Regions from separate parts of the Homo sapiens genome. Here region 1 is linked to region 2. Evidence: fine-mapped expression QTL. A gene starts in region 2. The other region holds a variant in brackets. All regions are shown on one strand. Distances are from middle to middle.

What was found.
Region 1: its variant is fine-mapped to the expression of C12orf60 in spleen (GTEx, PIP 0.99).

What each region holds. Positions count from the first base shown.
Region 1 is chr12:14,826,611-14,831,958 of GRCh38, forward strand. ART4 (ADP-ribosyltransferase 4 (inactive) (Dombrock blood group)) reads right to left here. Exons shown (of 3, transcript NM_021071.4): 3 at 1-2,852. The coding sequence ends at 2,761. Among named protein-coding and RNA genes, the nearest start is that of ART4, 14 kb to the right of the region's middle. The variant G/C (reference allele first, on the strand shown) is at 2,808.
Region 2 is chr12:14,801,422-14,806,807 of GRCh38, forward strand. It overlaps C12orf60 (chromosome 12 open reading frame 60), which reads left to right and starts at 2,249. Exons shown (of 2, transcript NM_175874.4): 1 at 2,249-2,330. It overlaps WBP11 (WW domain binding protein 11), which reads right to left and starts at 2,057. Exons shown (of 12, transcript NM_016312.3): 1 at 1,931-2,057; 2 at 1-7. SMCO3 (single-pass membrane protein with coiled-coil domains 3) reads right to left here. Exons shown (of 2, transcript NM_001013698.2): 2 at 3,229-5,275. The coding sequence starts at 5,259. The coding sequence ends at 4,582. RefSeq lists an enhancer at 2,353-2,592.

The DNA.
Region 1 (5,348 bases), 25 kb after region 2:
ATGCTTTTGGCTGACTTTTTAGCTTCACTGAGTGGCTTCCAATTTCCTCTCCAGCCCACATTACCCCTCACTCTCTGCCAGACCTATCTGCTCCCTGACCTTATGCTGTACATACATCGATCATTCCGTATTCGCTTCTATTTTCTGCTTTCCTCTAAGTAAAACATCATCTCTGATAGAAAGCTTTATCTAACCATAGGCCAGAGGAATCACATTTTTCTCTCAGCTCCAAGCATTTAATATTTGGCCTTGTTTTGGGCACTACGCACTTGGCACATACTCTTTCTTGTTTTTTTCTCCTTCTGCTCACCCCTTCTCCCAGCCTAGAGCCCTAACGGCTGGTTCAAATGCAGCCTCTTACTTAAAGCCTTCCGGGTGTCTCTTCTTGCCTCAGTTGGAAGAAATCTTTCTTTTGAATTGTTATGAACAGAAAACTTGATTTTTGCCTTTTTTTTTTTTGGCATTTCACTTGTGGCTTGCTTTATGTTCTTAATTTCTCCTAAGAGATTGTAAACTCATGAGAGATCTGGCCTAGTGTTCTTAACTTTTAATCCCCAAAGTGCTTTGTACACAGTATGGCTCAATACATGCATTTATATGGCACAGGAAAAATGTACTTAAGATGTTGGGTGGCTTTTACCAACATAGCATGTCATTACTGACTCATCGATGCTCACTGGAAAAGCTTGCTCCCAGAGCCATGTCCCCAGGACTCTCTACTAGGTAGCCACCAAACTGCCAAAGACCCTATCCTATGCAAGTCACATAAATTGTCTGTTTGTAGAAATTCTTTCTTTTTTTCTTTTTTTGAGATCGAGTCTCACTCTGTTGCCCAGGCTGGAGTGCAGTGGTGTGAACTTGGCTCACTGCACTACCTCCGCCTCCTGGGTTTAGGCAATTTTCCTGCCTCAGCCTCCCAAGTAGCTGGGATTACAGGTGCGTGCCACCATGCCTGGCTAATTTTTGTATTTGTAGTAGAGACGGGGTTTCACCATGCTGGCCAGGCTGGTCTTGAACTCCTGACCTCGTGATCCGTCCTCCTCGGCCTCCCAAAGTGCTGGGATTACAGGGGTGAGCCACCATGCCTGGCAGAAATTCTTTCCTTTATTGACTGTAGAGGCTACTGCAACTAGGTGACAGAGGTGATTTGGCCCTGTTAGTTTCAAATCCCAATTTAAAGAATGATAGTACAGAGATGCCTGAACTCCCTGCCAGGTAATTTTATGTAGCTTATTCCCCATTCCATTTCTTTGATCATGACACAGGCCATTCAGGAAGTCCTATGGAGAGTAAATAGATGGACCGATTTTCAGTTTTGCTGTTTCTTATCCAAATCTTAAAAGGGATAAGGAGCATGGACTTTCAAAATCCAAAATTATAGAGCTAGCCCTCATCTTTACTCCATTTAGCCTGATACCAGGGTCTTCAGTGATCGTGATCGGGTTAAATAATCCCTTATGTCGCTACCTAAATTACTACCTGAGGGAAGCGTTAGAGGACATTTCCAGCTATACAATTCAACAATTTATACTTCTTTGCATGTACTAGTTTACATGTAATGAGACCTCGCTATATTGCTGATATTTGTTTGTAATCAGTGTTTTTTTCTCTCATACTCTCTGTTAACCTTCACACATACCCTCATGTTTTCCTAATATTTAAATTTGCTATGAAGACTTAAATTTGCCATCAAGTTCTCTATGAATTAACATATGAGTTTAAATTTTAACTTTTGTAATGTCTTAGGAACATGCATGAACACCCATTACTGCTGGTGAATGAAATTTCACTAACATCTTTCATTAACTTTCCCTTTTATTTCTCAAGTTTCCATGTGTCTTCTCATCTGAGGCCATACTAGCTTAATCTTGAATGCTCATAAAAAATCTCTGAAGAAAATTCACACCTTGGTTAATCTCTGGGGTTCAAAGCTTTTCTGTTTGGTGAAGAATTTGTCCTTTGCTTTCTAATTTAATCTTCTTTGATTTGTTCCTATTTAGAATAACTAAATTAAAAAAAATAAGGAAGAGTGCTTGTATTCGTTGGAACTTCAACTGCTTGATGCTTGACATAGAAAATCTAATTCAAATTATGCAAGCAAAAACATAAATTATTGATTTATGTAATGAAAAATCTTGTAGTATTCAGCTTTAGGCAAAGTTGGATCCAGAGGCTTATACATTCTCATCAGGTCTCAGTTTCTTTTCACTTATCAGCTCTTCCTTTGTTGTGTTAGATCCTTTCTCAAGGAGATGGGGTCTCCTCTCCTGGTGGCGGGATCTTTGCTGGCAGCTATAAGCTCCTACCCTGCTTTCATTAATATCCATTCAGAAAAGAAGCTCCCATTCTATTTCCAATTGCAATTCCACAAAAGTACCCTGATTGTATCTCACAGGCTCTGATTGGATCATTTTCTATTCCAGCATGAATCTTTGTGTCCATGAAGAAGAAATATACTGATTGGCTAAGGCCTGAGTTACAGGCCAATCACAGTCAGTGGGCTGAGCCAGCTCTGCATCAGTTGCTAGCTGGGCAGAGTGATTTCCCCAAGAGTACTTAGGGTGCCCAGATTGAAATAAGGCAAAGGGGTACAAGGAAAGGCATAAGAGAATTAGCAAAGAGGAGGCCATGCACTGGTTTCAGCAGAAGTATGATGGGATCATCCTTCCTGGAAAATAAATGTCCATTTCTAGCCAAAAGGCCAATAAAAAAGATTTTATTTAAATATTTTTTTTAAATAAAAGGAGCCACAAGATTTCTTTATACTCTGCTTTTGGAAAAGATGATGACACTGGTCAAAAAGGAGA[G/C]AGATGCAATAGCTATAGGATCAGGGATGCATTTCTTGCTGGAAGCTGTAAAAAACAAAACAAAGGAAATATTTTAGGTAGCAGAGTTTTTTTTAAAACTACCTCATCTATCCATTGATCCACTTACTTAACTTAGAAAATTCCTAATAAAAACATTTGAAGTTAGCTACTTAAAACACATTATTTTAGATTTTTCTAACATAACTTGCTTATTTTGCAGATGATGAAACAGACACCAAGAGGTTAAAAGATGTACTCCCAGGTAACCCAGCCAGCTGGTGGTAGAGATCTAATTTTCCATCTTTATCATCACCAGCAGCATAATCACTGTTAGCATTATCCCCATCTTAATTATCATCATCTTCATCACCATTATGAAAGTTAACACAGACTGAATGCTGATTTTGTGCTAGGATCTATTTCGAGCCCTTGCTATATATTAACTTAAGCCTCACAACAAACCTATGAGATTTTTATTCTCAATATCCTTGGTTTTTACTTGATGAGATTGTGACACAGAGATGAGAAAAAACTTGCCAGTGTCACACATCTTGTAAATAGTATAGGCACCATTCAAACTTGGCCAGTTTGTCTCAATTCTGCATTCTTAACCACTAACCTGTTTGTCTGTGTATTACATGTCCATCCATAGAATTTTTCATTACAAGGTGAGCAAGAAATATTCACACAATCCTGTTTGGAGTGTGTGTGTGTGTGTGTGTGTGTGTGTGTGTGTGTTCTAACTACACATATACACCTTTCACAGGAAATGTGGGACAGGTTAGCAGCCAGTTAGGTGTGGAAGCAAAACTGGAAAATAAAAAAAAATATTGTCAGATATAACTAATAATTGGCCATATAATGGGGTGGGGACTGAAATGAGATGGGAGATGGAAACCCTGTAAAAAATAGTCTAAATAAAGACTGGAATCTCTTTGCAGCCAGTTTTCACTATTGTTTAAGGTAGAAAAGATGTTTCTGGGAGGAAGAGATTCAACTCTAATTGCCTCAATATTTGCTCATATTGTTTGATAGGATAACCAGATGAGGGAGAAATACATTTCTACTATTTTCACACAATATATACATTTTTTAGTTTTTTGGAATTTCTATATAGGAGTGTGTGTGTGTGTGTGTGTGTGTGTGTGTGTGTGTGTGTGTATACAAGTAGAAATTCCAAGACAGAAAAGACAGAAATTACTCTGTGTGTGTATGTGTGTACTGTATGTATGTATATATATATATATATATATATATATATATATATATATATATATATATACAGTAATTTCTGTCTTATTTTTTTGAGTTGGAGTTCTCACTCTGTCACCAAGCTGGAGTAGATACAGTAATTTTCAAGACCTCAATTTTCACCAATAAGAGTTGGCAAGGAAAATTAAGAGCATATGTCTTTCTAAACTTTTGTCAAAGTTTGTGTTAAAATCAAATTATATGAATCCCTACAGAGACTTAGGAAGCCTTAATACCACTTTAGCAGGTCAATCATTAGAATGGTTCTCAAACGATTTTTGTTTTTTTTTCCTCTTCACTGAGGCTAAAGATCACAAGGATTTCCAGTCCCACCCTTTCCCAGTATTTAGAGAGCTTAAGGGTCTCTGTTAGGCCACACAGTAAGTGACAGAGCCAGTATTTAACCTAGAGAGTCTGATTTAAGAGATTATATGTTGAGCTTCCTGGAATGTAATGTCAATTCTCAGTCCTCACTGTATTTGACCTATCAACCATATTTATGGTAGTGAATCACTCCATCCTCCTTGATACTTACTCTTCATTTTGCTCTTAGGACACCAACTCTATCAATTTTCTCCTCCCTCACTGGCCATTCCTTCTCCATTTTTTTTTTTTTTTTTGAGATGGGTCTTGCTCTGTCACCCAGGCTAGAGTACAGCAGTGTGATCTCTGCTCACTGCAACATCAGCTCAAGTGATTCTTCCACCTCAGCCTCCCAAGTAGCTGGGTCTACAGGTGCACACCACCATGCCTGGCTATTTTTTTTTTGTATTTTTGGTAGAGACGGGGTTTTACCACATTGCCCAGGCTGGTCTCGAACTCCTGAGCTCAAGCAGTCCACCTACCTCGGCCTCCCAGAGTGCTGGGATTATAGGTGTGAGCCATCACACCTGGCCTCTCCATCTTCTTTGTACTTGACCTTTTAAAATGGGAGTGTCCTGAGGTTTGATCCTTGGACATTTTCTCTCCTTTATTTATACACCTTTGTGGGGAGCTCATCCAGTCTCTTGGCTTTAAATACCACCCATAACCCACTGACCTCAAATTTATCTTTCCATCCTGGGTCACTCGGAATTCTACACTTGTGCATCAACTGTCCACTCAACATCTCTGCTTGGGTTACTATTGCACAGCTCAGATATAACATGTCAAATACCAAACTCCTGCTCTTAAATCTACTCCATCCCCAGGCTTCTCCATCTCAGTGAGTGCCACCTCCATCCTTTCAGTTACTCTAGCCAAACCTTGGAGTCATTCTTCACTCTTCTTTTTCCCTCACTTTTCACTTCC
Region 2 (5,386 bases):
GAAAAACCTGTGAAGGTGAAGACAAAGAAATAGCTTATATCTCCTAAATGTATTTCTTCCTTTTTCTAGTCCCTACCAATCTCTGAAAAAAAATTCCTTTAATTAGAAATTCTGTGAGACTGTTCTTTCCTTAGTTTTGACTTTAATGTCCAAGAAAGATGGCATCACCTTTCTTGACCATGAAAATTTAGATCTCTATCATTCTTCAGAAATGTGATGAGTGTGAAGACCACTTTGAATATCCTCAAGTCATCAGTTTAGCTTTTTTCTTATGGATCACAGCACTGACTTTGTCAACTGATAAAAACAACTAGAAAATGCTTTAACGATATGGCACAAACCATGAACATCAGAATTCATTAGTCCTTCTTCTATAACCTCCCTTTATTAACATGTAATTGTAAAAGAAGAATAAGAAGGGAATGGGGGTAATGGATCTAGGCTCAAAACACATACCTCACCTTTGCCTCTCTCCATGGTTTTTCTTGGCATGTATGCTGTACATTCTCAATACTTCTAAGACACTAAAAACTCATTAATTTAAGCATATTTAATTCAGATTCAGTTCTAGTTCAGATATAATGCTTGACTCTCAAGAGTTCAAAACACAACTAAAAATGCAAATATTTGAAATTAGTGCTATACTGAGAGCTCCCCAAAACTTAAATATTAAGACACATATTTTTCTTACTAAGACCTGACTCCCAATATATATTTCTTAAGGTAATTAAAGGGAATACTTATTTTTGTTTGAGGAAAAAATATTTTGTAAGCTAAAACTTTTATTAACACAGTACCCTATTACATGACTTCTTCCTCTTATTCCAAAATAATGGGGCTTAATTTTTTGAAGCGCAGTCTTTCCAGTAATAAAGGCGGACAAATTTGCTTCCTTTTGCAAGTAGACACTTTTTAAAGGTAAGAAAGGGAAGATTTTGTCAGCCCAGTTTATTACAGTTAATGTCTCTTTCACCAAGTGTCCAACTGCCCCGAAAGCCAGATGTTTCAGAAAGCCAGATGTTTCACAGCTGTTCTGGTGGCAATTACTTCAAGACAGCGGTATCAAAGGCTCTGATTTTTAGCTTCCTCATCTAAAAAATGGGGACATCAATTACTTTATAACAAAGCTCTGATGATACAATGAGATTACAAATAAAATATCCTGTGATGTTTGACTCACTACTTAACTAAAATCTTTATAATGGATCCATATTCCTGGCCTAGCTACCATACACCCTGTCAAGTGGTTTCCTTCTAAGAAAAACTGGGGATGGGGGGGTTAGGGGGGTGGGAGAGCAGCAGGGAGTAGGAGGTAGGGAAGGAGGAAAACAAGCAAAATCAGTACATATACAAGCTCTCCCATCTTTGATTGCCTGCGTTTTTTGTGCTTTCCTTTCTCAAGTTTCCTCAGGCTCATGTTCTGAATCTCCTCCCCCACAAATGAAACACAACGGATACGAATTACAGAGAATTTTACGGAAGACACTGGAGCTTAAGTCTGCAGATTAGTTTTTTGTCTACAAGCGGAGGCGACTGGAAAATCAAGCCAAATAAGCGTTGGATAACTCTAAACAGCCAAAGAAGCTTCAATGGGATAGGGTCCAGGTTCACCAAAGGAGGCAACACCAGCAACTGACGAAACCATAGCGACGGCTGACCGACCATGACTCGAGGTACAAGACGTCAAACCTAAGGCTACTAATCAACGTGCGTAAGAAGCGGCCCCAACCGACCCGGGCGATGCCAACCGCGCAACCACTGGTCGCCGCGCCACCCCAGGCCCAGGAATAGCCCAGTCCGCAACAGGGAGACCTCAACCAGGGAGAGGAGGAGCGGGGCAAAGGGGCTGGGTGTCCCCCAAGCCGCTGCGCGGGACGTGGAAGGGACGAAAGAGGTGAGGAAGAGTAGTAAATCAATTCAATACACTCACACTTCTGCTGTGCTCCCAGGACTACGAGAAGCGGGTAGGGGGCGACTCCCGGCCTCTTTCACTTCGTAAAGGCCTTCAACTGGGTCTCTCGGTCAACCCCTCAGCTACCGCCATCTTGAAACCTCGCGCCCCTCCGCACTCCTCACGTCATTTCCCATTCCTCTGTCCCGCCTTCTCTTAGCGCCGCTTGACCCTGGAACCATAGAGAATACCCAAGAATTCCAGGACCAGAGTCTCTTCCGGTTCCATACAATACTCAATTGGTTGGTTGTCGGCTAAGAGCCCGCCTCATTGCGCTCATCTAGTACAATAGGAATTAGAAGAAGATAGCTGCTAACTGAGTGGCTGACGGTCCTGTCTCTCGAGTTGGAGGCATCTTGACTTAGTTGCTGGGAGCCTGGTACGTTGAGCCGTCCGAGAACGGTACATTCTGCAGATAAAGAAGCGTTCTGCGTTTTCTGTCTTTTGGAATTACCTTAGTTTTTGCATTTTTCTGTTTCTTATGACCCAAGCAGGTGCGATCCTTTAGGGGTGTCTCCGTGTGTAAACGAATACCCAGATAACATTTGCCACTGAGTTTAATCCGCTTTGTAAGCATCAGGTTATCCCATGTGAGCGCCTAGTACGTGTGGAAATTTAATAGACAGGCAGAACAGAACGTTTGTAGACCACCTGAACAAATAAATTAGCACCCGTATTAGAGTCGCAGATTGCTTATATGGGCGGTGATTTATTATTTGTTAGTAGTGTTTTGAAGAAGAAATACGGGGATACATATGCAGTCGGTTTTAAGTTATATGAGTGGCAAGGTTGATATATATTGGCTATATTCCCGACTGGTCTTTTCACCAGCCAAAAGTCCTCTATGATGTCACTCTACGTACGGGATTCTTCACTTAACTCTAGCCTTCGCCCTTTCCCTACCTTCTATCCCCTCTTTCCGTGAGTCAGCCCCCACTTATTTCCCTTAAAGGTAAGTTTAAACATTTAAAAAACTATCTTAGAGGATACGCTTGGTTATTTCTAATCTTAACCTGACTATCCCATGTAGGAAGGCTATTCTTACCACCAGTTATAAATATTTCAAAATATTGATGGAGATACATACTAATTTTTAGCAGAATCTTTAAACTGCCCTTGAAGGTATAAGATCGGTCCTATACCTAAACTTACCTTTGTGTTAGGAAATTCTTGATTTGATTTTAGACTGAATTTGAGTGTCAGAAAGCAATGACGAGATATTGTAGGTTAAAGCTGATAAACCAGGTAGTACATAAAAAAGAAAATAATCTTGAACTGCGAAGGTGAGCTAAGTTGTAATGTTTTGCAACTAGTTTTTTTTCTTTCCTAACACATTAGTGATCATAGTTTTGCAACTCGTTTTGAAAAACAATGCAAGAAGAGAAAGAGAAAACAGTGTATGTTGGAAATATTAAAGTCTTTCATGTAGCTAAAATTTTATATGTAGCTACTATTTTTAAGATATGCTGAGCAGTTTTTATTTCAATACATTTCTTGTACTTGGATGGGAGAATCAACTATAACAAACACAGTCTGGCATCAACAGCATATTAATAATTTTGTCAGTATAGACTAAAAGAGTCCTCATGGGAATTATTGGTTGGCAAAGGATTTAGAAAACAAACACATCTGCAGAGATTCAGCGGAACCATTAATAGGCTTCCATAGCCTTTGGCGTTTTCTAAAATCAGGTAATTAGTGAAATGGCCCACCTAATGCGTCATGTAGCAAAGGCAGCTGCCTCCTTTTTGCTAGTGTTGAAAATGAAATTATATTCTTTTTTCTGAAAGCTTATAATAAATTATGACTTTCTTTTAAATGACAAATGCTTTGAGTAGTGACCTTCTATTCTGCATCCTAAATGCAATATGTGTAGCTGTGTTTTGCTTTCTTGTCTTCTAAATGTTTCAGTGTTTGAACATTCACTTGAGCGATATTTAATTATCACAGTTGGTCAGGGTTGATTGCAGTGACTGAAACAGGACCTTGATGTTTTTAGTTTTGATTTTTACCATTTTCAAATCCATCCGGTTTACATTGTGTAATCAGTAGACGTTTACAGATCAGCTTCCTGTCCTAATTGAAGCACATTGTTACAAACCATTTTTCAGTCTCTTCTAGTTTACAGAAAACCAGATTTACTCTGATGGTCAAAAATATGGTAGTATTTCTGTCTCATTCGAAGGCCTAGAGTTTGTGTCTAGGCAGAAGTTACTGAGTATGTCCCCTTATAACTAAATGATGTTTGAAGCTGGTGGTAGAAATGAAAGTCTCTGCATTCAATGTGAAATTTAAGAATTTTACTGAAATTAGAAAAGAGAAAAGTAACCCCTATACTTGCTACTCTACGATAGCATTTACCCCAATGTTGATCTGGTAGAGCAGGGTGTGAAAACATCCAGGGAGAAAATTTTTTTACCTCACAGGGTCTAGCATCAGCTGATCCAGGCATTGTTGACTCAAAACTCATCTAGTCATCTAGTCTTGGCATCTCCAGTTTCCCTCTCCAAATTGTTTATCTTATTTAAGTCCATATTGGAAGCCTATAGAAAATGAACCTAATCAAAGAAGCAAACACTGTTACTGAAAAGGAAGCAGAAAAACACTTCAGTGGCAAATAAAACGGCTGTTCATTTCATTTGGTGTTTCACTGTATTGATGACCTCAGTAATGGCATGATTATATTTTTCTGAGGCTGATTTGAACTCCACCAGATGCTTCTCATAACTTTTGATGGCTGCTTGAAGCTGTGTTTTTTCCACTGCTCCCAGGATGGCACGGACAATCATATCTATGCCAAGGCCAAGAACAGCAACTCCAATACTACCAAGGAGAGAAGCACCAATTTGAGCTAACACAGTGACCAACTTGTTAATTATGCCAGTTGTGACATTTGAGCCCACAAGTTTAACAGCGACTGCACTGGCTGCAGATGTAGCTTCTCCCAGGATGACCGAAATAACCTTTTGCACTATTGCAATTTTGTCTGTTTCCTTTTCCTTAATATCCTGAAGTTTTCTATAGAGGGTTGGCTCTAGCTTATCTTTTAGTGCTTCATCAACCTTCTGCAATTCCTTTTGGATTTTCATAATGGCTTGGATGATGAGGTCACAGTTTTCTTTGATGGTCCCATCTCTTTTCATCTCAATGGAGGCCAGCCTGCACCCCAAGTGCATATTTAGAACCTCAGTCAGCTTATTGGTGACATCGAAGCTGTCAGATAAGCAATCAAGAAGCTGCTGGTGAAGACGATTTACTTCTTCCCGCCTTTTTGGGTTCTCTGGGTAAAGGAAGTCACTTTGGGCCATATTTCCAATATGATCGCTGAAAAATAAAATGGTAAATTTTTACTGAAAGTCTTAAAAAATGTCTGCTAACTGTGTAGAAGGGACTAGGAAATCTTTTTCTTCATGCATAGCAAAGAAGCAAGATGCT